Linked DNA regions of Homo sapiens. The protein of the gene in region 4 purifies or fractionates together with the protein of the main gene of each other region. This does not show direct contact. Each region holds a gene or a part of one and is shown on either strand. Other genes may lie near its edges. The genes, in order: CSTF1, NPEPL1, OAS1 and NDRG3.

Evidence for each region.
Region 1: the proteins of NDRG3 (region 4) and CSTF1 fractionate together in Homo sapiens (co-fractionation; one large-scale study listed by BioGRID). This does not show direct contact.
Region 2: the proteins of NDRG3 (region 4) and NPEPL1 fractionate together in Homo sapiens (co-fractionation; one large-scale study listed by BioGRID). This does not show direct contact.
Region 3: the proteins of NDRG3 (region 4) and OAS1 purify together in Homo sapiens (co-immunoprecipitation; one large-scale study listed by IntAct). This does not show direct contact.

Annotation. Positions count from the first base shown.
Region 1 is NC_000020.11:56,401,409-56,409,273, forward strand, and holds the end of CSTF1 (cleavage stimulation factor subunit 1), read left to right. Parts: intron 1-2,059; coding exon 2,060-2,319; 3' UTR 2,320-4,954; downstream 4,955-7,865. UniProt on the Homo sapiens protein: One of the multiple factors required for polyadenylation and 3'-end cleavage of mammalian pre-mRNAs. May be responsible for the interaction of CSTF with other factors to form a stable complex on the pre-mRNA.
Region 2 is NC_000020.11:58,705,127-58,712,273, forward strand, and holds part of NPEPL1 (probable aminopeptidase NPEPL1), read left to right. Parts: intron 1-371; exon of another isoform or gene 372-443; intron 444-1,996; coding exon 1,997-2,074; intron 2,075-7,147. UniProt on the Homo sapiens protein: Probably catalyzes the removal of unsubstituted N-terminal amino acids from various peptides.
Region 3 is NC_000012.12:112,916,926-112,924,014, forward strand, and holds the end of OAS1 (2'-5'-oligoadenylate synthase 1), read left to right. Parts: intron 1-621; coding exon 622-775; coding exon of another isoform or gene 776-832; exon of another isoform or gene 833-1,671; coding exon of another isoform or gene 1,672-1,788; exon of another isoform or gene 1,789-2,463; coding exon 2,464-2,628; coding exon of another isoform or gene 2,629-2,768; 3' UTR 2,769-2,978; downstream 2,979-7,089.
Region 4 is NC_000020.11:36,650,598-36,657,744, reverse strand, and holds the end of NDRG3 (protein NDRG3), read left to right. Parts: intron 1-1,212; coding exon 1,213-1,248; intron 1,249-1,333; coding exon 1,334-1,385; intron 1,386-2,905; coding exon of another isoform or gene 2,906-2,944; intron 2,945-4,043; coding exon 4,044-4,225; 3' UTR 4,226-5,974; downstream 5,975-7,147.

The DNA.
Region 1 (7,865 bases), about 20 Mb from region 4:
AGATTTATATTATCTACTATTGATAGAGATTTCGGGAAATCATATTTTGTTGGTCAGAGTCAGCTGGTAAAATATTTCAGCACAGTTTGGTGTCATATCAAAATTTTAAATACACGCTTTTTGACCCACTATATCTACTCTTAGAAATTCAACCTAAAGAGGTAATTGGACAGACATGCACATGCCCATAAAAGGATGTGTGTCCCAACATCATTTGGAGTGGCTGAAAGTTAGAAACAGCATAAATGTCCAATAAGAAGCACTGAGGAAATCTGTTACGCATCCATGGACAACATACACCTTTAAAAATAAGTATGCATGCTAACATGGGCTGAGCACTCGCACTCCAGAGCCTCCTTTGCATTCTCTTATTCTTAATCCTCACAGCCTTATGGGGTAGGTTCTGTAACTACTCCATGGAACAGATGAGAAAATTAAGGCTGAGGAATGTTAAGTAATTTGCCCAGGGTCACATTAGTGTTGAACCCACATCTGACCACACAGACTTTGTGTTTTTATCCACTAAGCTGTATTCTGTCTTTACAGATCTGCACTACATATGCTTGAATATTAATAGTATATGACAAATGCTCTGACTTAAAGAAGTTACAAATGAAGCCAGGGACTGTGGCTCACACCTATTATCCCAGCACTTTGGGAGGCCAAGGTGGGCAGATCATCTGAGGTCAGGAGTTTGAGACCAGCCTGGCCAACATGGTGAAACCCCATCTCTACTAAAAATACAAAAATTAGTTGAGTGTGGTGGCACATGCCTGTAATCCCAGCTACTCAGGAGGCTGAGGCAGGAGAATCTCTTGAACCCAGGAGGCAGAGGTTGCAGTGAGCCGAGATCACACCATTGCACTCCAGCCTGGGCAACAGAGTAAGACTCTATCTCAAAAAAAAAAAAAAAAGAGAGAATTTACAAGTGAGCACATAACACTTAGATATTTCGAAAGAGTATTCACCAAAGTATTGACTGTTACCTCTGATGGGTGCAATTATTAGGCAGTTTTTATTTTCCTTTTTATACTTTATTTGGTACTTTTAAACATAAAATATGTAATTTATAGTCATAAAAAGGCTTCCTTTTGGAAAGTAGATATTCATATACTTTGTCTCAGTAATTCTGTCTCTAGGAATTTACTCCTAAGGAAATAAAGCTTTCTGTACAAAGGATGTTCATTACAACATTACTTATAATTGATATAAACTAAATGTCAGGAAGTAAAAGAATTGTTAAACAGGCCGGGCATGGTGGCTCACACCTGTAATCCCAGCACTTTGGGAGGCCGAAGCAGGTGGATCACAAGGTCAGGAGATAAAGACCATCCTGGCCAACCTGGTGAAACCCTGTCTTTACTAAAAATACAAAAATTGGCTGGGTGTGGTGGTGTCCACCTGTAGTCCCAGCTACTTGGGAGGCTGAGGCGGGAGAATCACTCGAACCCAGGAGGCGGAGGTTGCAGTGAGCCGAGATCACGCCACTGCACTCCAGCCTGGCGACAGAGTGAGACTCTGTCTAAAAAAAAAAAAAAAAGATCACACACAAAAGAATTGTTAAATAAGTAATGGGGCTTCTAAACATGAGGCACTTTGCATCTAGTAAAAAACATGGAAAAATGTACTCAGCATAAAGTTGGTTAAAACTATAATAGAAAAATATAGTGGCAACAATTTTATATGTATTTTTAAAATGTGTTTTTTTATGCCTCAAAGTACATTAGGACAGTAACAGTATTGCTTCAGGTGATCTGGTGATCTCCTTTTTTTTTTTCCTGATGCAGTCTTGCTCTTGCTCTGTTGCCTGTTGCCCAGACTGGTCTTGAACTCCTGGGCTCAAGCAGCCCTCCTTCCTCAGCCTCCCAAAGTACTGGGATTACAGACGTGAGCCACTGTGCCTGGTTTGATTTTCTTTTTTGTACTTTTTTAGAGTTTCTGAAAGTGTACAAGGTGTATCACTGCAACAGGTTTAAAATGCTTTTACATTGAATGCTAGAACGTTCTGAGGGTCTAAGATGTGGACTTAGAAAGCTATCCCTCTTGCTCTCTGTGGCAGGCGCGGGTTTAAGTGGACGCCAGGTGCACCGGACACAGGCTGTGTTTAACCACACCGAGGACTATGTGTTGCTGCCCGACGAGAGGACGATCAGTCTTTGCTGCTGGGACTCGAGGACAGCCGAGCGGAGAAACCTGCTGTCGTTGGGGCACAACAATATTGTACGCTGCATAGTGCACTCCCCCACCAACCCCGGGTTCATGACGTGCAGCGATGACTTCAGAGCGCGGTTTTGGTACCGGAGATCGACCACTGACTGAGCCACCCTCTCCGTAGGGTTCTTTCTCGAGGACTCTACCCTCCTCCCCCACGTCCTGTCTCAGCTGCAGTCGTAAGTCCGTGCACCATCCTTGACGTTTTGCTGCCACCTCTGTCCACATTCTTCTTGGATTTGTATAAAAGAATCTTTTTTTACCTTGATGTAGAATCATGGTGGAAAAAGTTGGAAACACAGATCTGTGCAGTTCTACATTCACTGATTATTACAGTGTGATTTTCATCGGTTTTGTAAGTACAGGACTTGCCGTTTCTTTTGATCTCTTGATTGAAGGAGGATAGGGCATTAAAGTGCTTTTGACATGAGGAATTTTCATTTGGTTCTTCTGTCAACTTTCTTGCTTATTCTGCTGAACCCTCTGTGTATTTCCCTTCCAGGTATATTTGAACAGATAAGCAGGCATGCAGCTCTGAGACTCCTGAGTTTTATGCCATTATCAAAAGCATTTTCAAGAATCCCTCAATTCTATCCTGAAATGATGTTATTCTGATAATAAAGCTCAGATCTGCAACTTTATTGTTATATATTTTTCACTTCTGTAAAATTAATGGCCAGTTTTTCCTGACAATTTATAGGAACAGTATCTTTCAACATACTCCCTACATTATCCTTCAATATCTGCAATACTTGTCTTTAGTAACTGTATTTCTGGTAAGATTATGATTTCATGAGAAACAATTGAAAATATATCCGATCTAATTAAATTAGGTCAGCCTGCTATTGCTCTCAGGTGTTGCCTGTCTTCACGAATGATTAGTATCGATTGACCTCTTTCTTAGGTGGTTTTAAGTCTTCAGTTCTCGTCAGCATGAACTAACTTCTCATCATGGAGGCACATAGTAACTGCATTCTCAGAAGATTTATGCAGTTAACCAATTGATACAAGTTTTCTTTTTCTTGAATTTTTTTTTTTTTAATTGAGGCACAGTCTTGCTCTGTCACCCAGGTTGGAGTGCAGTGGCGTGATCTCAGCTCACTGCAAGCTCCGCCTCCTGGTTTCACACCATTTTCCTGCCTCAGCCTCCCAAGTAGCTGGGACTACAGGCACCCACCACCACGCCCGGCTAATTTTTTTTTTTTTTTTTTTTTTTTTTGTATTTTTAGTAGAGCCAGGGTTTCACCATGTTAGCCAGGATGGTCTCTATCTCCTGACCTCGTGATCCGCCTGCCTCAGCCTCCCAAAGTTTTGGGATTACAGGCGTGAGCCACCGCGCCCAGCCTTCCTGAAGCTTTTTAGAACATGACAGTACTTCTCTGGATTCAGCACTAGCAGAGTCAGAGAACTCTGAACTCCCCTTGTACAAACATAAACTTTGCTTTATATTTATCCCAAAAAACAAATACCTTATGATCTGCATAGGAGTACCTAGAAATATAATCTGGGATCATTTGATAAAAATAGTAAATAGATTGAAGTAAAAGTCATTGCTTTATATTATAGGAAGTTTTGTTTTGTTTTGTTTTGTTTGTTTTGTTTTTGAGACGGAGTTTCGCTCTTGTCCCCCAGGCTTTAGTGCAATGGCGCGATCTCGGCTCACCGCAGCCTCCGCCACCTGGGTTCAAACGATTCTCCTGCCTCAGGCTCCCGAGTAACTAGGATTACAGGCGTGCGCCACCATGCCCGGCTAATTTTGTATTTTTTTTAGTAGAGACGGGGTTTCTCCATGTTGGTCAGGCTGGTCTCGAACTCCCAACCTCAGGTAATCCGCCCGCCTCAGCCTCCCAAAGTGCTAGGATTACAGGCGTGAGCCACCACGCGCGGCCCCATCATACGAAGTTACTGAAGTTATTGCGTAAACATTCTGTTTTAGTCATCCTTGAGGATCGTTTTAACTCCTTGATCTGTAAAACTGTCTTAAGCATCTTAACATGTTACATCACAGGGTTTTAGCTCAGATTTCCAAAGAGCCATATTTTTTGATGCATATTTCCAGTTGAATTCCAGTGTGAATTTCCAGTTGTACTTTGCATTCTGATTCTTTGATATTTGAACTTGGCCATCTGTGGGTGCTACTCTCGTAAGACTAAAAGGCACCTACTAAATACGAACAAGGATAACCAGTTCTACCAAAAACATTACCAACCAAACCTCCCCTGTTCTTTTTTCAGACTTTCCTTTTGCTTTCAACCTCTTAAACTGTAAAGGAGAGATTTAATGTTTCCCTATTATTCTGCTTTGACTCACATACTAAAATGACCACATGGCACTCCATTGAATCTTTTCAGTTGTTCACGAATTAAAATAATGCCCATGTTTTACAGTTTTTCGAGTAGTCTCAGCAATGGATCTGTAGTTTCAGGACCTGTTTTTAAAAGATCAAGATACTTTTATGTGTTTCAGAAGTAGCTGTTTTTTCATTTTTTGTGGGTTTGTTTTTTTTGTGTTTGTTTGGTTGGTTGGTTTTTGGTTTTTTTGCTTTTTAAAGGTCACAGTGTTGTGAGCCTGGTGTAAATGCCAGGAATATTATATGGACTTAGTATCTGCATCTCGTTAATTGTACCACACAACACTCTGCCATTCAAATAATGAATATCTGGTCAGGATACGAACTTATACCCTCTGTGTGTTTTTTTTTTTTAAGATACGTGATTTCTGAAATAAACTTTATATACAATGATAAGCTAGTTTATTTTTTTTGGAACTTACTTTGAACATTTCCCACATTTGAACATCTGTTCTCAAACAGCAGTTATGACTTTGGTACTGTTCACCCTTTCTTTAGTGCTTTGTTCCAGAAGTCAGGTTTTTATAGCTGGATCACCTTTAGCTCTTTATCTTTGCTCCTCTGCTCTCTATGAATTTTTCTTTTTTTGAAACGAATTCTCACCCTGCCGCCCAGGCTGGAGTGCAATGGCGCGATCTCGGTTCACCGCAACCTCCGCCTCCCAGGTTCAAGCGATTCTCCTGCCTTAGCCCCCTGAGTAGCTGAGATTACAGGCGCGTGCCACCATGCCTGGCTAATTTTTTCTATCTTTAGGAGAGACAGGGTTTCGCCATGTTGGCCAGGCTGGTCTTGAACTCCTGACCTTCTGATCTGCCCACCTTGGCCTCCCAAAGTGCTGGGATTACAGACGTGAGCCACCGTGCCCGGCCGCTCTCTGTGAAGTTAAAGAACTTGAGTATAATTCAGTTTTTTGGCTTATTCAGAGAACGCTATCTTTGCTTACACTTTGGTTTTCCTTAGGAAGAGCAATGTGAGAGAGTCCAGTCTCAGCTCTGTTACTGACTTGGTAAGTAATAGGGCAAGTCATTTTTCTGGGATACAGCTTCCTTTTCTGCGATTAAAGGGCTTAATGAAAAAAATCTCCAGCATGCACTTCAACCTGTAAAGCTCTTTGTTTTCATGCCTGATGATACAAACAGACTTCAGGGAGGGAGGAAGCCATTGTTCCTAAGCGGGAGACATCTGTTTCTAAAAAGGTAACAAACCAGATATTTCCAGAGCCCTTTCAATTCAAACCTGGATAGAACTTTTTTTAAATCTCTAATAGTTAGCTGAGACAGCAAGAAAGAAGGAATTCCTGAGGGGCAGAACAAAGCACAAATCCAGAGGATTCGCAGTGCTGGAGCACTGAGTAGGTCAGTTCCTGTAACCTACTCATCTCTGAGCAGAAGTCAAAGCTCTGAGTCTTCATGGAGGAGGAACTTTGGTCAAGACCCAGAAAGCCTGGAACCCCAAAGGTGCCCCTTCAGTAAAAGGATGAACTTGACAAAAACCTGCCTCAGAGAAAGACGAGAAATCTGCCTGCTTGGTGCTGGCTCAGGGGTTTTCGGAGAGAGGGTGTCTGGTGTTGGCACAAGGGAGGGTCTCCTGAGAATTCGGTCCACGCACTGTTCCTCATGCAGGTTTGGAACAATTTACGCTACCTGTACTGCTCAGAGAAAATCAAATGGGGATCTTAAAGCAGTCTCCAACTGATGGTGGCCACAAGTATCTGGCAGAGGCCAGCACGAATTTTCTGTGCAAGAACACGTCTTAACCCCAGTCCTCCCTCTATCCCAGATAAACCTCTGAGGATCATGAACTCACAGTCAGGTACGTGAGGAAACAAGCCACCCTGATAAGAATCAGCAAAAATAACATAATCAGACTTGCAAGGACCTAGTGGAATTACCAGACACAGATTAAATTCAGAGAACTAAAACAGTAACTAAAATGGGACCAAGGGGCGGGCGTGGTGGCTCACGCCTGGAATTCCACACTTTGGAAGGCCGAGGCTGTGAGATGGCTTGAGGTCAGGAGTTCGAGACCAGCCTGGGCAATAGGGCAAAACCTCATCTCTACCAAAAATACAAAAATATTAGCCGGGTGTAGTGGCGCACACTTGTAGTCCCAGCTACTCAGGAAGCTGAGGCATGAGAATCGCTTGAGCCAGGGAGATGGAGGTTGCAGTGAGCCAGGATCAAGCCACTGCACTGCAGCTTGGGCAACAGAGCGAGCCTCTGTATCAAAATAAAAATGGGACCAAGGATTAAAAAACTTGCACAAGGCCAGGCGCCGTGGCTCACACCTGTAATCTCAGAACTTTGGGAGGCTGAGACCGGCGGATCACCTGAGGCCAGGAGTTCAAGACCAGCCTGACCAACATGGAGAAACCCCATCTCTACTAAAAATACAAAAACATTAGCCGGGTGTGGTGGCACATGCCTGTAATCCCAGCTACTCAGGAGGCTGAGGCAGGAGCATCGCTTGAACCCGGGAGGCAGAGGTTGCGATGAGCCGAGATCGCACCATTGCACTTCAGCCTGGGCAACAAGAGCGAGACTCCATCTAAAAAAAAAAAAAAAAAAACTTGCACAAGGGACTGGGCAGGTTTGAATTAAAGAATAAGACTTGTGGAAAACCTCCTATTGGAATGTTTCTCTAGTTTTCATCGTGAATTGCTTTGGCCTTTCCCTGGAGCTCTTAACTGTTGGCCTTCCTGCTCCCTGACTGGATATTTGACTCTATGAAGCCTCTTTCACAGGCGTCTTTTGGCCAAGCAACTCCTCGCCACTCTGTCTGCTCCCCAGTAACGACCGCTTGCCTGGGGCATCATTTTCTCTCTGGCTTTTTCTTGCTCTCCTGCCGGCATTCAGCCTTTCCCTCCAGCTTCCTGTCCCCACTCTGTCCCCAGAGCATTTCCTTTGCATCCTTGTTTTCAATTCTTGCCCTAATTCCTTTTCCCTCCCAACCTGGGGGTCAAAACTTGGGTGATAAAACTAATCACTAATAACTAGAGTGGCTGCAGATTCCCCAGCCCTCCCAGTATTATCCCTGCAGCAGAATATTTGGTGAATTTGTGGGCAATTCATGAAATTCTTTTTTTTCTTTTTTCTTTAAGACAGTCTCACTCTCGCCCAGGCTGGAGTGCAGCGGTGCGATCTCCACTCTACTGCAGCCTCCACCTCCCGGGTTCAAATGATTCTTGTGCCTCAGCCTCCCAAGTAGCTGGGATTATAGGCATGCACCACCACGCTCGGCCAATTTTTGTATTTTTTGTAGAGATGGGGCTTCGCCATGTTAGCCAGGCCTGGCCTCAAATGAT
Region 2 (7,147 bases), about 22 Mb from region 4:
CTCAAATGTATACCATTGGCAATAAATAATGTCAGCTGTTTCTGGAAGTAAGAGGCTCAGTTTGTTCCTTTTCTGGGAAATATCTGCCAGATACCTAAATCCAATTAAATGCCATTTGTCTGTCAGTTTTTCTTTCAAGTAAAGATGGTGTCGTGGCCAGAGTGGCTCATGGAGCTCAGAACTCCCCCAGCAATCACAGCTGAGCTTCTGCTCTGACCGACCACTGCCCGTCAGCAACAGCAGGAGTACATTATGAGTCACACGGAATATGGAAAATGTATTGTACCCAAGGGTTGAGAGTTTTAAAAATTAATTTTACTGCTTCAGCAAGGAAATTCTAACGTGAAATTGGCATTGGTTCATTTTCCCAGAGGGCACGGAAACGAATACAGTGGCTCCCGGACCTCTTTGGGACTGTGGCCTGATACTCCAGCACAGGGGGTGTAAGTGTCAGCCCCGTGAAAAAGGCAGAGACCGTCTTAAATCACTGCGAAAATGGTTTCTTCTATAAAAACAGAAACAACATATGGGGGCTGGTGAAACTTTGCACAATCAATCAGTTGAGCTGTATTTGCAAGCCCAGTCCTGGCTCCACCTGCAATTGGGAAGGAGCTGGCAGCTGTGACGGGGGAGACATGGTGTACAGTGAGCAGCCGTTTCCAGGCATTGCTGTGTGACCCATTTTGCACATGGTTTGATTCCAGATCGGAGGCCCTGTTTTTCCATTTAAACAATCCTGTGCTTTCTCAAACAGATTAGCTCAGAAGAGATGGCTTATTTTCAGTAGTACAAGATGGGTCATTTTCACTCAATTATAAAAGCAGCTCAATTTACATCTAAAAATACTTTGCACTAAAATTCAAAGCTTGTGTAATAAGATAAGGGTTCAAAAATGATTCAGTAAATTTCATACCCAAACCTTTACCTCTGAGGACCTGCTGTTAATTTAAAATATGAACTTGTGAATTTGATTTGGGAACCTGTAAAATGTAAAAATGTGTAACACTGTCAACCAGCGTATAGGAAACAGTGTGGACACTGCAGGAGAAGGGTGGCCCCTCTTTAGACCCAGGTTAACCAGGAGGTGTGAACTATTAACCAGGAGGTGTGAACTAGCAGGAGGGCAGAGGTGGCCCCTTCTTCTGGCGATAGACCTGGCAGTGACATGAAGGAGCGACAGGTGTCCTCACTGCTGGTGGTGTCAGTGGGGGTGGATGTGACTGATTTTGGCGAAGAGTTCACATCAACCCTCACCATCATTCAAGGTTGTGATGAGGGGCAGAGAATGCTGAGCCTAAGTCTCGTTAGGTGGTAAAGCCCTCTAAGTGCCAGGGAGAGGAAGCTAGGCCCTGTTCTGGGGGGCGACAGGTGGCCAGGGCAGGTTTGCATTGCGGCAGCAGCCCCTCAGGCTTCCTCCCTGCCATAAGCACACTAGGAATCTGCAATGGGTGCAGGAAGCACGCAAGCCCACCCAGGTCCCTGAGGTGCTGGCCAGGGACCTCCAGCAAGCCCCAGAGGCTCCCTGGACCTCAGCTTCCTTCTCACGCTGTGCGGAGGAGTGGAGAGAGTGGCCCTGCAGACAGACCCCCAGGCGGCGTGGCAGCCCGGGACTGAGGTCAGGGTGCCCGGCGTCAAAGCACGGGGTCCCTGTTTCAATGTCAGAGCCCGGCCACAGCGAATTCTGCAGCTCCGGGCATCTCCTCGGGTTCCCCCTCCGTGCAGTTACTGTTTGATAACCCCAAAGTTCTGTCAAAACAAAAGGGAGCCTCACCATCTATGGCCATGACTCCCTGTTGCTTCTGGAGAACACCCCACTTGGCCAATATGAGGTTCATGAGTTCTGTGGGTGCCCAGGAGGCCTGGTGTGGGGGCTGCCCAGGCCTGAGAGCTGGGGAAGGTGGGGCTAGCGTGGGGCCGGGTGGGGGTGGGGGGCTTCCGCTGCCAGGCCTGGACCTCACAGCTCACCTTTGTCCTGGTCCCTTTGTACCACCCGCAGACTACCATGCCGGGGATGAAGCGAGACTGCGGGGGTGCTGCGGCCGTCCTGGGGGCCTTCAGAGCCGCAATCAAGCAGGTGAGTGGGCCCTGCCCGCCCTCTGCAGGGGCATCCTGGGTGTGCCTCGTGGGTGCTCCCCTCTCCCCTGTCCGTCCCGCCACAGGCCCCACCAGGGTCCTACCCGAGTCTCCCCAGCGGATGCTTGTCCCCCCTCTGCCCCCAGGCTCTTCTGGGGCCCCCAGAGCTTCCCGCCTTCATCAGAGCTGCTCTGGGAGGCCCCGAGGGCAAGGTGCAGCCATGTTCTCTGCTCAGGGCCTGCCTTGGCTCCAGAGCCCCATGAGCGGTTGGCTCAATGAGGAAGCCTGGCCTAGACCCTCATGGCATGTGGCAGGCAGAAGCTCATGGCAGGGGCACACGTTGTTCTGCGTACCCCTCCCGCAACCCTTCTTTGCAGCAGAGCTGCCTCTGGTGACTGGTCTCACCAAGTCACCACCTCCAACCCCCAGGCCTGGCCAGGCCCCCTTCCTCTCTTGCGTGGGCAGGTGCCCCAATGCTTAGCCCTTGCTCAGTGGCAGTAGTCACTCGGGGGGCGTGGGGGGGGTGGGGGGTGACCTTGAGTGACCTTCCCATGGAGCCCAGATGTCCCTGGGGCCATAAAAAGTGCTTATTAAACAAATGAAGAGGCCAGCTCATGCTGGTAATCCCAGAACTTTGGGAGGCGGAGGCAGGAGGATGGCTTGAAAGCCAGAAATTCAAGACTACCCATAGCAACCTTGCAAGACCCCGTTTCTATAAAAAAAAATTTAAAAACTAGCCAGGCGTGGTGGCGCGCACCTGTAGTCTCAGCTACTTGGGAGGCTGAGGTGGCGGAGGATCGATTGAGCCCGGGAGGTTGAGGCTGCAGTGAGCTAAGATCCCACTGCTGCACTGCAGCCTGGGAGATAGAGCGAGACCCTGTCTAAAGAAACAGGCCAATGAGGAGTGTGCATTGACTCATCAGCCGAGGTTTTACCTTCCTAGCCTACCTTTCTCAGGCCAGCAACCCAGTTCCTTGGGGTAAACTTGAAATGGAAAAACAAAAAGGCCTTGGCAAGTAGTTTCCAATCTGGAGGGTCCTGCTCCTGGCCGTGAGGGAGGAGGAGGAATCCCAGGAGGAAGGAGCTCCTTCTGCCGGGGCTTCCCAGCTGGCCGTGCACATTCCAGACTGTGTGACGGGCTTCTGCTACCAGGCCCAGCCGGTGGGGACACGGAGGTGCGGGGCTGAGGCGGCCTGGGCAGGAGGGGCTGGCAGGCCCTCACCTGTGCTCTGCACGGGTTTGGAAACGGCCTCTTAGGGCTCACGGCTGTTTCTCTCGTGCTGAGCACACAGCTGGGGCTGTACGCAGCCTGCAAGCCCCATGCCTCCATGAGCACCTGCCGTGGCCCGTCCACTGCAGAGCCTGTCGGAAGAGGCTGGAGGAGGAGCATGTGTCCTCTGTGCGCTACTCCTTCACTGGTTATAAACTACCAAGGGACACGGCTGGCACTCAAGGAGGGTCTTGACTGCCCCAGCATCATAGGCCACGGGGCAGGGTGGCTCTGGGCTCCCACTACCTGGCCCTCCTCCTTGCCTCTGCCCAGGCCCCGTGGCTTTGGCAGATGGGCTCACCAGAAGAATGCTGAGGCGGACGGGCCCAGCTGTGCGGTGCTCGCTGGGCAGCTCTCTCTGAAGGGAGCAGTTGCTGCTCTGGGGTGGCACGGGGGCAGGGGTGGGCAAGTGGTTCTGGAGGAGCCGTGTGGCCAGCCCTCTGTGGCCGTCTTTGCCGTTCACCCCTGGTTACTCCTCCAACAGAGGGTCTGTCCTGCCTCTGGGACAGGCTGGCTGGGAATGCCCCAGCAGGAAGACTCTTCTGAGCTTGAATTCCCTGTTCACAGGAAGCCACTTGACAAATGATCACAGATTCATCAGGCAGCAGCCGTGAGTGTTCTCAGCACTCCTCCACCTCTAGAGGTGCTGCGGCCTCTAGAGGTGGAGGAGCACCTCTAGATTTGAGGGGTGCTGAGGACACCCCACCCCCACTCTGGACAAAGATCCCCCTCCCACAAGAGCTCCAGCCTGGAGGCTCCACTGTGAACGCGAATGTCCTGCTTGGCCTTCACATATCCTTGTTGGCCTCTTAGAAAGGAATACGCCTCTGTCTGAGCCACAGAATCAATCCTCAGGGTAATGCATTTACCCAGAGAATAAAATCAGCATCCACGTGTCCACACTGGTAGGAATAGATCACTGAAGGAATAAATGAATGGGGGAGAACCGTTTCTCACACTGAATCCCAGTTTCAGGCTGCAGAGGTAGTGATGGAAACAGGAAGTCGTCACCCCACAGCCAGGCTTCATTCCAGGTGAGAGTGGCCCACAGTGCTGGAACTGGAGCATGAGAGTGGGATGGGAAGAGGACAGTCAAATGCTCTCAGAGTGCCTCTCGCAGCTTTATAGTGGTGACACTCACAACCCAGCCTAACCAGGTGTCCCAGGGCATGTCACCAGGGCAGGGACAGAGCCACCTGACATGCCTCCAGAGGCAGTGTACAGGGAAGGACAGAGCATTTCTGCAGGATTCCCACCAAAAATGCATGGCCTGCCTGTAGTCACAAGGACACGTCAGACAAACCCAGCACTGAAAGTGCCAAGGCCACAAAAGACAAAGCCAGACTATGCAGTCGCCCAGATTAAGGAGGGCAAGCAGGCCAGGCTTGATGTGTGGTCTGATCTGATCTGGACGTCTGAGGAGCACATGGAATCTGGATGGTCCCGAGAGGTGATGGTCCTGTGTTGGTGATTACTACCCCCTGCTGCCCATTGTCCCATGGCTGGACAAGATGCTGACATTGGCAGAATCTGGGTGAAGGGTGTTGAGGAATTGTTTGTGGCTTTTTTTTTTTTTTTTTTTTCCCCGAGATGGTGTCTTGCTCTGTTGCCCAGGCTGGTGTGCAGTGGTGCGATCTCGGCTCACTGCAACGCCTCCCAGGTTTAAGTGATTCTCCTGCCTCAGCCTCCAGAGTAGCTGAGATTACAGGCATGTGCCACCACCCTTGGCTAATTTTTGTATTTTTAGTAGAGACAGGGTTTCACCTTGTTGGCCAGGCTGGTCTTGAACTCCTGACCTCAAGTGATCCGCCCACCTCAGCCTCCCAAAGTGCTGGGATTCTGGCATGGGCCACTGCTCCTGGCTGTTTGTGACTATTTCTGCAATTTTTTTGTAAGTTTGAAATTATTTCACAGTGAAATGTTTTGAACTTTTTAGAAAGAGGATGTACCATTCAAAGATGGAAGGGTACGCCAGGAGCTCGGTGGCCCTGGGCTCTGGGGGTGTTAGCGACCCTCCAAGCCTGGCACCAAAAAAAAAAGCCCCTGACCCACTTACCAACCCAAAACCCTTGGCCGCCCTGGGGGACCAGGCCCAAGCCCTGGCGTAGCACTGGAGACCCTTCCCACGCTGTCGCTGAAGCACTCACAGTCCAGCCCCATCTTTGGCCACCCTCTTCTGTTAGACCAGCAAGTCCCAACTGTGCCAGGTAACACCCAGGAAGTGTGTGAACATTGACAGCTCCAGGGCTCACCTCCAGCTCTGCTGAGTCTTGGATTTTTTCAGCCGCTCCTGGTGATTGGAGAACACCTCCAGACTGGCCGTGAGGGCCGCAAGGGCAGGGCCGTGCCTGTGCTGTCTCTGTCTCACGTCTTCCAGCCGTGCAGACCTCAGCACTGTTTGCCCCAGGACTGCAGCTCGCTCGTCTTCTAAGCCAGCACTTCTCAAGTGGGGTCCCCATGTTGTTAGTAATATGGGTTCTCAGCTCTGCCCCAGACCTGCTGGATCAGAAATTAGGGGCAGGGCCCAGCCTTCAGCGGGTAGCAGCCCTCCCTGGGAGGCTGAAAGCATCCATTTGGGAATCCTCCTCCTCCCCGCTCCTCCCTCCTCCCCCCCCGCCTCCTCTCCTCCTCCTCCTCCCCCCCTCCTCCCCCTCTCCTCCTCCTCCCCACGCCCCAGCAGGCTACAGATCCAGAACTCTGCTTTCTAGGAGGACTTCAGGGCTCCCCTCCTTTGTTGGTGGAGCTCATCTCTGTGGCGTCCATGGCCTGGAGCCCCATGGCCTCATCCTGTGACCTCAGGGTCATGCTGTCATTTATTCGTTGTTCCTAAACACCCACTTCTCCCTGGAATGACCACAGGAGGCCTCAGCACAGGGACAGGCCGTGGTCACTGTACACACAGATGGAATGTCAGTGCTGGGGTATCTGGGGAGGAGCTCTGAGAGGAGGAGGCTGAGGGTCCTGAAGCCCCTGCCCCGTGTCCCTGACACAGGCTGGGCTGCGAGAGTGGGAGCGGGGGACTTGGGGCCCTTGTGGAGCTGACAGGTGGCTCCGATATCATCACCCTGAGGCTGGTGGGGTTCTTTCCCCTGTGCTGCGTGGGGGTGCGGGGCCATCTGTGAGGCTCAAGGACTGAGCGGGGACCCAGGGAGGTCTCAGGGACTCGCAGCTGCCATGCCCAGCACCACTGCTGCAGCTCCTGCCACTGGCCACTCCTTGCCCTGCTGGCTGCCCCTGCCCCACCATCCCAAGTGTTTGCCTTTGGTGAGGGCTCTGCACCCGTGGTGGAAGAGTCGGCTGTTCCAGGAGATGAGAAAGACGCTGGATCCTATAGAGCTGTGTGTCCGCGCTCTCGAGGCATGCTCCATGCTAGGAGGATGTATTCTGGTTAAAGATTCGTCTGCGGGAGCAGAGGAAGGGCAGGGACAGGGGTCTGGGAGCTCTACTCCATTTGACATTGCTGCCCGGGTGTGGCCCGCTTCGGGGTCAGGGGGCACCCTTAGAACCTGTGCAGGGCAGGAACTGCCACCATCTGTTGGCCACACATTTCTCAGTGAACAAATGACTTTTGGCATCAGAAAGCCATAACTTCACACCTAAACTTCCACGAGGCTGAGCTCTTCCTGCCCCTCTGTGTGTGTACGTGTGTGTGTGTGTGTATTGAGGGGACGCGGCTGCTGGCCACCTTCTGTCGGCACAGGTTGGCGAGGCTTCATGACTGCCCAGCCCATGCAGTCCAAGAGTCCCACAGCCCAGCCCATGCCCAGGCTCATCCACTGCGGCGGGTGGCCTCTGCCAGGGGAG
Region 3 (7,089 bases), on a different chromosome or scaffold from region 4:
GCACTATGCCAATTATTTTACAGGTGAGTAAACTGAGGTTCTGAGAGGTAAGGAGCTTGTCCAACCCTTAACAGAAAATGAGTAAAATAGCTGCAGTTTGAACTGAAATAAGAACAGCAGCAACAACAATGATAGTAATTGCTCCCAGGTATTGAAAGCTTGTTGTAAGACTAACACATGCTAATATAATAGTAAAAATTATTAGCAATATTACTGATATGTATGTTATGTTCTAGTCGCTGTGCTGAGCATTTCATATAACTGGGCTTTTTCTATCCTCACAGCATAGCCTTTGAGATAGGTATGTGGAACTATTCCCATTTTACAGATAAGAATCCTGAGGCTTAGAGAGTTCAAGTGACCTACCCAAGGGCACATCACTGATAAAGGGCAGAGGTGGGATTCAAACCCACATCTGTCAGGTGCAAGTGCAAGGCTCCTTCTCCTCATGCTCACTGCCTGCTGGGGAATAGGGCACTGGGGACATACCCCAGGGAGCCCTTCCTCATGTTCTGAGTCCCAGTTCATCCCATGCTGCTATTTTGCTCTCCCAGGAGCATCTGGACTCCCTAGACAGAGCCCCAGCTTCTCACCTGTCCCTCTCTAAATGCTGCTCTGCAGGCCTGTGATCCTGGACCCGGCGGACCCTACAGGAAACTTGGGTGGTGGAGACCCAAAGGGTTGGAGGCAGCTGGCACAAGAGGCTGAGGCCTGGCTGAATTACCCATGCTTTAAGAATTGGGATGGGTCCCCAGTGAGCTCCTGGATTCTGCTGGTGAGACCTCCTGCTTCCTCCCTGCCATTCATCCCTGCCCCTCTCCATGAAGCTTGAGACATATAGCTGGAGACCATTCTTTCCAAAGAACTTACCTCTTGCCAAAGGCCATTTATATTCATATAGTGACAGGCTGTGCTCCATATTTTACAGTCATTTTGGTCACAATCGAGGGTTTCTGGAATTTTCACATCCCTTGTCCAGAATTCATTCCCCTAAGAGTAATAATAAATAATCTCTAACACCATTTATTGACTGTCTGCTTCGGGCTCAGGTTCTGTCCTAAGCCCTTTAATATGCACTCTCTCATTAAATAGTCACAACAATCCCATGAGGCATTTTTAAAAATTTTTTATTATTTTAGATTCAGAGGGCACATGTGCCATTTGTTACACAGCTATATTGTGTAATGGTGGGGTTTGGGCCTCTATTGATCCTGTCGCCCAAATAGTGAACAGAGTACCCAAAAAGAATTTTTTCAACCTTTGCCTTTCTCCCTTCCTCCTCCCTGTTGGAGTCCCTAGTGTCTATTGTTCCCATCTTTAGCAGATGTTAAGTATTTGATTTTCTGTTTCTGGGTTAATTCACTTCGGATAATGGCCTCCAGCTGCAACCATGATTTCATTCTTTCTTATGGCTGCATAATACTCCATGGTGTAGATATACCACACTTTCTTTATCCAGTTCACACTGATGGGCACTTAAGTTGATTCCATGACTTTGCTATTGTGAATCGTACTGCGATAAACATACGAGTGCCGGTGTCTTTTGATAGAATGATTTCTTTACCTTTGGGTAGATACCGAGTAGTGGGATTGCTGGGTTGAATGGACATTCTACTTTTAGTTATTTGAAAAGTCCCATGAGGCATGTTTTCTATCATTCCCATCTTACAGATGAGACAAAGGCTCAGAGAGGTGAGGTCACTTGCTCAAGGACATCAGCTAACAAGTGGTGGAAATGGAATTCAAGCTCAGTGGACTCTAAAGCCAGTGCTCATGTCACTGTGCTAAACAGCCTGCCTTGTCACATCCCCACCTCTCATCTGACCAATGGGAGACTCTGAGCAGCTGAGTGACTTGGGTTGTCACACAGCTAAACAGGGGCAAAGGACCCAGTCTTGGATCTTTCCACCTCCAAGCAGGAATCTGTCTGATTCCAGGGGATTGATGATGTTGCAGATGGCTAGGAAGCAGACTCCAGGATGGAATTTAGTATGCAGGATGTTCTGGGGGAGAGCCACTGGAACCAGCACTCAGGGAAAGGGGGGAAGAAAGGATAGGAAGGAAGCATGAAAGAGAATAGGGAGAAGTGAACAGGGATGCAGAGCGAATGCCAGTTTCAGCCAACTCCAAGGACAGCCCTGGAGCTGGAATGGCCTTTAGAGCTGCCCCATGGTGACAGAGGTGGCCAGGCTTCTATACCCCTACGTGGATCACTCACTGTGCTTGGGCACCTTGGGAAAGGGCATGGCTTTGAGCAAAAGGCTCTCTGCAGCTGAGGCAACCCCTAAAAGGGCTGACGGCTGAAGTCTGTCTGCTGACCACTGTCCCAGCAGCTGGGGCTTGTTAGTCCTTCCTCAAAGGGGGATCCAGATGGCATGTCACAGTGTCTACCGTAAATGCTCACTGAATCCAGCTGCAATGCAGGAAGACTCCCTGATGTGATCATGTGTCTCACCCTTTCAGGCTGAAAGCAACAGTGCAGACGATGAGACCGACGATCCCAGGAGGTATCAGAAATATGGTTACATTGGAACACATGAGTACCCTCATTTCTCTCATAGACCCAGCACACTCCAGGCAGCATCCACCCCACAGGCAGAAGAGGACTGGACCTGCACCATCCTCTGAATGCCAGTGCATCTTGGGGGAAAGGGCTCCAGTGTTATCTGGACCAGTTCCTTCATTTTCAGGTGGGACTCTTGATCCAGAGAGGACAAAGCTCCTCAGTGAGCTGGTGTATAATCCAGGACAGAACCCAGGTCTCCTGACTCCTGGCCTTCTATGCCCTCTATCCTATCATAGATAACATTCTCCACAGCCTCACTTCATTCCACCTATTCTCTGAAAATATTCCCTGAGAGAGAACAGAGAGATTTAGATAAGAGAATGAAATTCCAGCCTTGACTTTCTTCTGTGCACCTGATGGGAGGGTAATGTCTAATGTATTATCAATAACAATAAAAATAAAGCAAATACCATTTATTGGGTGTTTATTAACTTCAAGGCACAGAGCCAAGAAGTACAGATGCATATCTAGGGGTATTGTGTGTGTATATACATTGATTCAACAAGAAATATTTATTGAGCACTTACTATGTGCCAAGCATAGCTCTGGGCACTGGGAATATAGCAATGCACAAAAGCAGACAGAAATCCCTGTCCTCATGACCCTGCAGAGCCAAGACTTCCAGAATTTTTTAAATAAAAAAATCCCTGTCCTCATGGAGTTGACATTTGTGCAAAACATCTTAATGTTAGATGGTTTTCCTATTACTAATAATTCTGAAATAAGCATCCTTGATTTATCCTTTCTCCATATCTCTGAGAAAAATTATAGAACCTCCCTGTGTGACACAGCAGCCACTAGCCACATGTATCAAATGCTTAAAATGTAGCTAGTCTAAATCTACATGTGCTGTGAGTGCAAGGTATATACTTGGTTTCAAAGACTTAGTACAAATGAAAAGAATGCCAAGTTCTTGCCAACTGATAATTTTTTTAATTGTGTGCTGAAATGACAATTTTTAAATATATTTGAGTTAAATCAAATGAACTTCATCTCTTTCTTTTCCCTTTTTAATTGTGGCTACTAGAAAATGTGAAATCATACATGTGGCTTGTGTTATATTATGTATTTCTATTGGACAGCTCTGTCCTCCAAGGTAAATCACTGGATTAAAGATTCGACTATACTGACTTACATTGCCACATTGTCACACTGTCCTTGGGACCAAGAATCAACATATCATTCATAAGACTCTAAAATATAAAACTCTCATAAATACTCACAAAAGAACCTAGCATGCTCTGATCACCTGAGTTGCTGGTCACTTTTGGTGGCTGGTAAGCAGCCTTTGGTCCGTCCAGATTATATTCTTCCATTTAGTCCCCCCACATCCCTGTGAGATGGGTTTTGTTGTTATTCTCATAATATTAAGTGGAATAACTTGAGGTTCTAAGAGGTTACAGTGCTTGCCCAGGGTCACCCAGCTGGTCAGGGGCAGAGTCTGAACTTGAACCCTAATCCTTCTCTCTCTAAAGCTCATGTTCTTAATCACTGTAGCATGGTCTTAATGTGTCCTCATTCATTGAAAGCTTATGTTTTCCTACTCTGGCGCCATGAGAACCAGAAGCATCAATGTCCAGGGGCAGGGAAAGATGAATGTCCCAGCTCAACCTGAGCACAGATTCACCCTTCCTCGGTCTTTTTGTCCTATTTGTAGACTGGATTAGATGATGCCAGTCTACTGATTCAAATGTGAATCTCTTTCAGAAAAACCCTCACAGATACACCTAGAAATGATGTTTCACCAGCTATCTTGGCACCCTTAGCCCAGTCAACTTGTCACATAAAATCAATCATCACACACTCCATGCTGATAGGCAAGTGTGGACATCCCAATGTAATGGCTTCATTGTATTTTACTGTGTGGAAAATGCACTTGTGTTGCCTTTTGAGAGTGTTTCATTTTATAGCAATGCCACAACCAACAGTAGATTAATGGAATCAGTAATTAGTTGCTTGATCGAAGAGCCACATGGCCACGTGATCAGCCTTCCATCTACAACAGGACCCAGGAGTATACCGGGATTGTTTTTCAAAGGGCATAGACATTTTTGCTGCAAATGACATGGGCTTACTCCAGAGTCCTGGAGGGGTCTGTGTTATAATTCTCTAAATAGATATTGCCATAATCTCTGAATGACACCTTTTCCCATGACTAACACTTTGAACACCATGGGGTCTGCCAGGCTGGTGTGGGCCAAGTAGAGGGGCGACTTGCACCACAGCCTATACCAGCTGCAGAGCCCTTTAGGACTTAATAAAAGGGTGCTAATTTCTGTACTTCCCTGGCTCTGAGATGTAATAGTGGTTTTAATTTACTATCCTGGCCAGGGAGGTGGCAGTTTCAAAGGTATCCCCATGACCTTCCTCACTGTGATAGCCCTCACTTAACCCTCAGGCCAATGTCGGGTAGTGTCTTTTACCAAGCATGTCCTTTTTGAATATACATTCAGGGGACAGGGAAATGATCACCAGGTCGGTCCATAGACACAGTGGGCAAATGACAAGCCTGACTTGGCCAGGGCTCCATTTTTCACTCTTGGCTCCTATATGCCCCTACTCTGATGGGGACAGAATCTGATGACGCTTTTCGTTATCAGTGTTGATCCTCTGCCCAACAGTCTTAGAAATGTTGAGTGACTCCCCTTTTCCAGTGTATCATCCTCTGAATAAATGGCCATAGGTCCTTTGGGGGAAACCATTACTATATATGCTATGGTGTCACAGCATCCTTTCCCAAGGGGACTCTGCCTCCTCTTTGTTAATGGGGTCTAGTCTGAAAACTGGGTTGGTCAGTTCCAAAAATCAGGAAGGGATGATGACTTTTTATTGGAATGGCTCCCCTTAACCCCCTGGTCGTCCGGCCTTGATTTCTTCTAATGGTATAAATTGAGTAGTGCCCTTTCAAGATACTCATCCACTAAGTCACTAAGAGGCCACATTGTGTTAACCAGGTCCCTAACCCTGTATCAGTCACGACCCCTGGCTGCCCCTCCAACCTCACCATTCATTATAGTCATTGCACCCACCTGGCTTCTATTGCTCTGGGAGTCCTGCCTGCCCTATTGCCCTTATCAATCCAAGCTCTGTAACAGCCCCTCTTCCCAGGAGGCCACCACCAGAACACCTCATGATGCAGGTGTCCCTCTCTCCACACATTCCTTATGGCCTCGGGGAATGTTTTGTCCCCTGGGACTCTATTTCCAGACTTACATAGTAAACATATCCACTCCTCTTCACTGTGCCCATTTCCCTTGGCCTCTTAATACCTTCTTCCATCAGCTCCACAGCAATTCTGGAATTTCATACTTTTCTGCATTTCTAGGAGCCATCCTAGGAGTCAGGGAAAACCTCGGCTTCACAAGTAAATGGGACTTCAGTTGTGTGCCAACATGCCTGGCTAATTTTTAAATTTTTTTGTAGAGATGGGGTCTTGCTGTGTTGTCCAGGCTGGTCTTGAACTCCTGGCCTCAAACAATCTTTCCTCCTTGGCCACTCAAAGTGCTGGGATCACAGCTACCATTCCCACACACATTTTCTTATTTTTAAAGGCTGTATGTGCACTGTATACATTAAATGTGTGCACTGTATACATTAACTGTGTGCACTGTATACATTAATTTTCTTTAACGAATTTATCCATTTATAGTTGCTTTGGTTGTTTCCACTTGATTATTGTGAATAGTGCTGCAGTAAACATGGGAATGCAGTTATCTCTTTGATATCCTGATTTCAATTCTTTTGGATACTCAGAAGTGGGATTGCTGGAACATATCGTAGTTCCATTTTTAATTTTTTGAGGAACCTCCATACTGTTTTTCACAGTGGCTCACCAACAGTGTGCAAGAGTTCCCATCCCTCCACATCCTCACACTTGTTATCTTTTGTTCATTCTTTAAAAAATGATAGCCATCCTACCAGGAGTAAGGTGATATTGCATCGTGATTTTGATTTGCACTTCTCTGATAATTAGTGATATTGAGTATATTTTCATAGACCTGTTATCCATTTGTGTGTCTTCTTTGGAGAAAGATCTATTCCTATCCTTAGCCCATTTTTAAATCAAGTTATTAATTTTTTTGCTAGTGAGTGGTAGGAGTTCCTTACATATTGTGGAGATTAACCCTTATTAGATGTATGGTTTGTGAATGTTTTCTTCATTCCATAGATTGTCTTTTCAGCCCGTTGATTGTTTCCTTTGCTATGCAGAAGCTTTTTAGTCTGATGTAGTCCAAGTTGCCTATTTTTGCTTTTGTTGCCTGTGCTTTGCATACGTGGCCACCTGATCTTTGACAAGATTGCCAAGAATACACAATGGGGAAAGGACAGTGTCTTCAACAAATGGTGTTTGGAAAGCTGAATGTCCACATGCAAAAGAATAAAATTGGACCCTTACCTTACAGCATACACAAAAATCAACTCAAAATGGATTAAAGACTTAAACGTAAGACCTGAAACTGAAACTACTAGAAGAAAACTTAGGGGAAAACTTCATGACATTGGTCTTTCCAGTGATTTCAGGG
Region 4 (7,147 bases):
CTTCTGTGGCATTCTCCTCAGTAGTAGTCCCCCTTCATAATAAGTTTTAATGCCAGTGAATTGAAACCATGGGGTTCATGTTCCTTTTTAAAAAAAGCCAGTCAGCCTGAAGAATACCATCTGAGTCCAGAGTGTGTAACAGCTGGAAGAAAGAGAGCAGGCCTATGGCCAACATGCCCTAAAAACGCTTTTCTGTGGACAGTAGATTCAAATCACCTGAGATCTTATTAGAAATGTACGTTCCTTTTTTTTTTTTTTTCCTGGAGACGGACTCTGTCGCCCAGGTTGGAGTGCAGTGGCATGATCTTGGCTCACTGCAACCTCTGCCTCATGAGTTCAAGTGATTCTTCTGTGTCAGCCTCCAGAGTAGCTGGGACTACAGGTGTGTGCCACCACGCCCGGCTAATTTTTGTATTTTTAGTAGAGATGGAGTTTCACCATGCTGACCAGGCTGGTCTGGAACTCCTGACCTCAGGTGATCCCCCCGACCTCGGCCTCCCAAGGTGCTGGGATTACAGGTGTGAGCCACTGCGCGCGGCCAGAAATGCACAATCTCGAACCATACCCCAAACCTATCAAATCAGAATCTCTGGGATAGGAATCCAAGAATCTGAGTTTTAACAAGTCCTTCAGGTAATTCCAGGGCACACTAATGAAGCCATACCCTAGAAATCCTTGCACACGTGAGAATAACCAGCTGTAAATGTTTATGAAGTGAAAAGCAGCATTACCAAACCCAGCTATTAGAGGAAAGTGGCTGACTGAGCAAGCCGGCTGAATCAGTATCAGCTCCTGATGGCAGAGTGCCCTTACTCACGGAGGAAAGATAATGTAGAGTTGAAATGGGACTTGGAAAGCTTGATGCACAGAGAAGTTAGGGTCACACTGTTCGAGGGCTCTGAAAGGAACCTTCTTCAGGTGGTTTTCATGGTTGAGAGTAGTGGTTAACTTCACTATCACCTCAACAGAAAATTCCCACCATGGGCCTGAAAGTCAGGGCTTCAGTCTTATTGATAAATAAGTATGTAATAATTATTTCAGATTTTCATCCAAGGTTATAAATGTTTGTACGTAGGTGCATTGAGATGCAAACTTGCAGTTAAACATTAAAACCTAGAATTCAATCTTGTTCTGTTTGAAAGGACTTGGGGTGTTCAGAGCAATTCTCTTAAGGGTAAGTCCCAGCTGACTTGCATATTTTTCCTTTTCTAGATGGCGGACTGTGGGGGACTGCCCCAGGTAGTTCAGGTAAGGAGAATTTTTTTTAAACACCCATTTAATTCTGCTTCTCTGTCTATGCAAAAATTAATGCCCTCTTGTTTTATCCCCCCAGCCTGGGAAGCTCACCGAGGCCTTCAAGTACTTTTTGCAGGGAATGGGCTACAGTGAGTAGTACACAACTTTCTATCTAGCAACGATTTAGGAATATTGGGAGCCAGTTTCACATCTGGGAGCCCACAATTCTTGAGATATAACCTCTGTGGCAGCTAGCCTTAAGCAAAGTAGAAACTGAAATGTTTATGGAACATTCATTTGTCCGTATTTGTAAGCTAACACTCAGCACTTACTTTCATCAGGCAATATATATTCTTTTTTTTTTTTTTTTTTTTTTGAGACAGAGTCTCACTCTGTTGCCAGGCTGGAGTGCAGTGGTGTGATCTCAGCTCACTGCAACCTCCGCCTCCTGGGTTCAAGCGATTCTCCTGCCTCAGCCTCCCAAGTAGCTGGGACTACAGGCATGTGCCACCACACCCGAATAATTTTTGTATTTTTAGGAGAGACGGAGATTCACCATGTTGGCCAGGATGGTCTTGATCTCTTGACCTCATGATCTGCCTGCCTTGGCCTCCCAAAGTGCTGGGATTACATGCGTGAGCTACCGTGCCCAACCTATATATTCTTAATCTAAGAAGTCATTCTGTTATTAGTGCCAATTTATAGAAGAAGAAACTGAGGCTCAAAGAGACTAAGCACATTGCCAAGGGTAAAAATTCAGCTGCAGGGCCATGATTCAAACCCTGACAGTCTGACTCCAGAGCCCACATTTTGAACCCCTGCAGCTTAGGCTGTCCTAGGTGTGAATCTGAAATTATGATTTGCATTTAAACTCAGCTGGTTAATAACTCCTGACCTAGAGAAATGAAATGGAGACTCCAGGAGAAAAGGGCAGTATCCTTGGTAAAGTCTCCTCCACCCCAGGGGACGAACTTGGAGAGTGTTTTAGAGCAAGTCCAAGGGTGTGTCCATATCATATGCCATTGTCCTGGTCTCTTGTATTGTAAGACCTCTGAGCTTTTTCATGGTCACAGAATTATCTACACTTGCTCCTTTCTTGGAGTTTTTAGAAAAACTCTTTCACCCAGGTACAGAGCTCTTTACCCAGTAGGGTGATTTTTCTCCTGTCTTTGGTATTAGTGTGGATAATGGTCATTGGCGAGCTGTCTGGTCAGCTGCTCTGGGCAGCTGGGCCCTGGGTGCAGCCCTGTACCTGCCAGGCAGACCATGTATGTCTTGTCTCAAGTGGCTGTGTCATCCTTGCCTGTGAGCCGCTACCAACCGAGCCCACACCCACAGCCCTGTGGCTCACTGGGAGGAGCAGGAGGCCCTCTCCTAGTCCATTCTTATCCTTTTCCTATGAAATAGCTGATCTTCCAGCCCACTTCTGATCCAAAGCAAGATGACTGTTTATAGCAGAGGGGAAAACAATTGCCTTTGTCTAGTTGAGGAAAGTAACATTTGAGATGTTATTGAAGTATCTGTCAGCCTCACCTCCTCTCTGGGACCTTAAAATAAAATTTTATCCCTGGCTTAGAGTATTCTGTCAGTGTCTACCAGGCAGCTGAGGTTGCCACTTGGCACTCTGGGGTCACTAACCTGCCTTTTCCTGTGTCCATCCTGCTTCCAGTCCCGTATGTGCAGCTCAGTCACCTGAGCACCGAGTCAGGTACCTTCCTCTGTGCTGGCCCTGCCCCGCCTTCCAGTCTCTCCTGGCTGCACTGGCTGCCTGCAGCATGTCCGCGGTCTTCCTATGCAGTGAGAGCCCGATAGAACGTGGCTCAGTACGCCCCAAGAGATTTAGCCTACAGGTCCAGCCCTGGTCCCCCAGGAGGAGGAAAGGATCTGGTTGTAAGGGGCAGGCCTCCTCTTGTCATCCTAAATCCAGGGTCACAGCAGCAGCTGAAACTTGATAGGCAGGGCCCATCTTCCACCACCACCTACTGATCCTTGAATTAACCTCCAGACACAGGAATCCAAGGGCAGCCTTGGCTCTAAATAGGAGGGTCAGAGCCTGTGCCCAGAGAACTCTGCAGATGATAGCACCTTTTGACCCCAGCATTGAAATGACAGCTAGGGGAGTGGCTGCTGCCCAGGACGATAGGCAGGGAGGCTATGCCAGGTAAGGCCCAGTCCCAGCCAAGCTGGAAGGACCTTAGAGTCAAGCAGTGGCAGAACAGGAGTCTGAGTTAAACACCTGCTTCTCTGTCCCTGGCAACCTGTACCTCATCCCTGTGTTGAGGTCAGCTCCAAGCCAATCTGCCCTCCCCTTCACCTGCACCATCCTACAAATCTCCTCCCTGGTAGCAAGGTAGCCTGTGGACACGGATGGTAGTCTCGTTGTATCGGGCTTGCACTGTGTTTGTGAAACACCTTCATACTTGTGTGTGTGTCTTTCTTTTCTTTTGGTTTAGTCTTGCATGCACTGTAGGTTTTGGTTACCTGTTTGGGTTCCCAAAGCCTCCATTCTGTCACTGTCTGAATGGTGTGGGCATAGTTAAGAGGCTATACTCTGGATTTAGGGTTTCCCCTTGTTCTGCGGTGACTACAATCAGCTGAGATTCCAACCAGATCTAAAGGATTAAAGTGGCCTCACATATCGCCACTCACCTAGAGCAAATGATACAAAATGGGGATGGCTATATCTTGTCCTGGGTGTCATGGTAAATGAGTCGGAAAAGCTAAACATAAAGACTTTGATGAGACTCCTAGGTTAGCTGGGCTTAACCGGGGCTTCATCTTCTAGTCCCCTTGGTTCTCTGTTACAGTACCATCTGCCAGCATGACTCGGCTCGCCCGATCACGAACCCACTCAACCTCGAGTAGCCTCGGCTCTGGAGAAAGTCCCTTCAGCCGGTCTGTCACCAGCAATCAGTCAGATGGAACTCAAGAATCCTGTGAGTCCCCTGATGTCCTGGACAGACACCAGACCATGGAGGTGTCCTGCTAAGCAGATGCTCCTCCCCTGGACCATTGCAAGTCCATCCTTCAAATGACCACTCCATAATATAACATTTCATCCAGTAAACTGGCCTCTACTATCTTTAACTCATGCATGGCCACTGAACCTCTCTCTAGTAGCCTGGATTTATCATTCTCTCTGCCTGCCCACCCCCTTTTTTGTATAGCCCAAGAACCACTTCCATGCCATACTGTAACATTCCAACATCTTTAGCTGATCAGATCTCTCCATATCCTCTCTTGCCAGCTTTTTCCCGTGCTCCCCCAACTATGTATCAGATAAGATTCTTTGATCCCGACTCTGTGTGTGCGAGCACGCGTGTCTGTGTTTGTGTGTGCATAGTTCTGTGGTTTTAGACACGCTTTCTTGTAGTGCTTCTGCAAAAAACAAAAAAGGGACTTATTTTGCATTCTCAATGGTGTTTTTAAGGGAATTAGGCAGAACAGATTTCTAGGTTGGGTAGGCCACTGCATTCTCTTTTGTTTGCAAATTGGTCAACAAAATTTGCAAAGTGATTTCAGGAGAGAGCAGCTTTGAGGAATGTGGAAAATCATAATTGCCGTCTGGACCATTGATTGATTGTGACCAGTAGCAGAAGGGTGCCTGTTACATAGAGAGGCTCCTTCTGTCCAAATGAATTTCTGTATACTCTTCTATAAATAAAAGGGAGGAATATATTCTGCTGGAAGCCCATGAACCATCGCTGAGGTTCTGATACAACATAGAGTTTTTTCCAAGGAGTGAATGTGGTTTAATTACTGGACTCTCTTAGCACAGGAAGGTGGAAACAAAATGCCAGGCCTCTGCTCTGAAGAGCAAAACTGCTGTCGCTGCAGTATCTGATACCAGACATCCACATATCCACAAGAAGTGCCTCTTAGGTCTGTGACAGAGAGTGTGTCTCCATTCCTCAGTTCCCAGAAAGGGGAGAGGTTTGGCCTAAAAAGCATGTAGATGGGGGAGAAATGGGTGGGGGGAGAGGAACAGCCATTAACACAGTATCATGTTTAACAAGTATAGCCTTGATTTCAGTAGATGTAATGGAAGCCAAATTAAATTGATACAGAACCCATTTCTCAGAGTCTTTTTTTTTTTTTGAGACAGAGTCTCGCTGTTACCCAGGCTGGAGTGCAATGGCGCAAACTTGGCTCACTGCAACCTCTGCCCCCTGGGTTCAAGCGATTCTCCTGCCTCAGCCTCCCGAGTAGCTGAGACTACAGGCACCTGCCACCATACCCAGCTAAGTTATGTATTTTTAGTAGAGATGGAGTTTCACCATGTTGGCCAGGCTGGTCTCAAACTCCTGACCTCAGGTGATCCACCTGCCTCAGCCTCCCAAAGTGCTGGGATTACAGGCATGAGTCATTGCTCCCAGCCATTAGAAAGATTGTTAATCCTATGAACTCCCTTTTGTAGGAGAGAAAGGGCCAATCTGTAGGGGTAGCCCTGTCCAGGTAAAGTTGTTTTCAGCCTCATGTCTACTGTTAGGTGAGGGAGTCACAGCCAGACAGAGAGTATTGCTGGAGGGTGAGAGAATTGTGGAGACCAACTACCACATAGCAAGAGCCCAGCTCTTGGGAGCATTGAGATGTAAGCTCAGGGTTACACAGTTCCAAATCTTGGGAAGGGGCTTTTCAGACAGACTGTTTGCTTTCTGCTGAGATAAGGAATGCATCACTCTGCCAGAGTATGACTTTTTACAGATTATTAAATAAAGCTGCATATGTCTCATTGTTACCTGATTGCTGGTGTTATTTCTTTCAAGCCATTCACTGGGGTTCAGGGCAGGACCGAGTTGCTGTATGCTGGTTCTGTGTTGCCATTTTCACATGTGATTGCTTATCCACCAAGCGACACTGTCCATTTATAGGAGGAAATGAAGACTGATGATAAATCATTTGCCCAAGGTCATGCAGCCAATAAGTCCAGCCAGGATCAAATCCCAGGGAATTATGCAGAATTCTATCTGATGTGTCTGTATTTCCCTCAAGCCAAAAATCGTGAGAAGCCTGACAGTGTTGTTTGTGATGGAGGAGGAGAAGCTGAGGTCTTGAGAAGGTGGTCCACGTCACAGCTCCACCACCTGTGTGGGATTGCTGGGTTCCACCTCTCATTTTAATAATCTGCAACCACTTGTCTTCTAAGAGACCAGCTTGTGTTTCTCCAGAAATGGCTATATTTGTACCCATCAAGAATAATTTCAGACCGAGTGCAGTGGCTCACGCCTGTAATCCCAACACTCTGGGAGGCCAAGGTGGGCGGATCACCTGAGGTCAGGAGTTAAAGACCAGCCTGGCCAACATGGTGAAACCCTGTTTCTACTAAAAATACAAAAATTAGCCAGGCATGGTGGTATGTGCCTGTAATCCCAGCTACTTGGAAGGCTGAGGCAGGAGAATCACTTGAACCCGGGAGGTGGAGTTTGCAGTGAGCCAAGATCACACCACTGCACTCTAGCCTGGGCTACAGAGCGAGACTGTCTCAAAAAAAAAAAAAAAAAAAAAAGCCAGGCATGGTGGCTCACGCCTGTAATCCCAGCACTTTGGGAGGCCAAGGCGGGCGGATCACTGGAGGTCAGGAGTTCGAGACCAGCCTGACCAATGTGATAAAACCCTGTCTCTACTAAAAATACAAAAAAAAAAAAAAAAATTAGTCGAGCGTGGTGGCATGCACCTGTAATCCCGCTACTCGGGAGGCTGAGACAGGAGAATCGCTTGAACCCAGGAGGTGGAGATTGCAGTGAGCCAAGATTGCACCATTGCATTCCAGCCTGGGTAACAAGAGTAAAACTCCGTCTCCAGAAAAAAAAAAAAAAAAAAAAAAAAAGAATAATTTCAGAAGACCACCATCTCAGATGAGTTTTCAGTAACCCGGGGCAAGTGCCAGCAAAAGTGCATGTGGATTGCTACA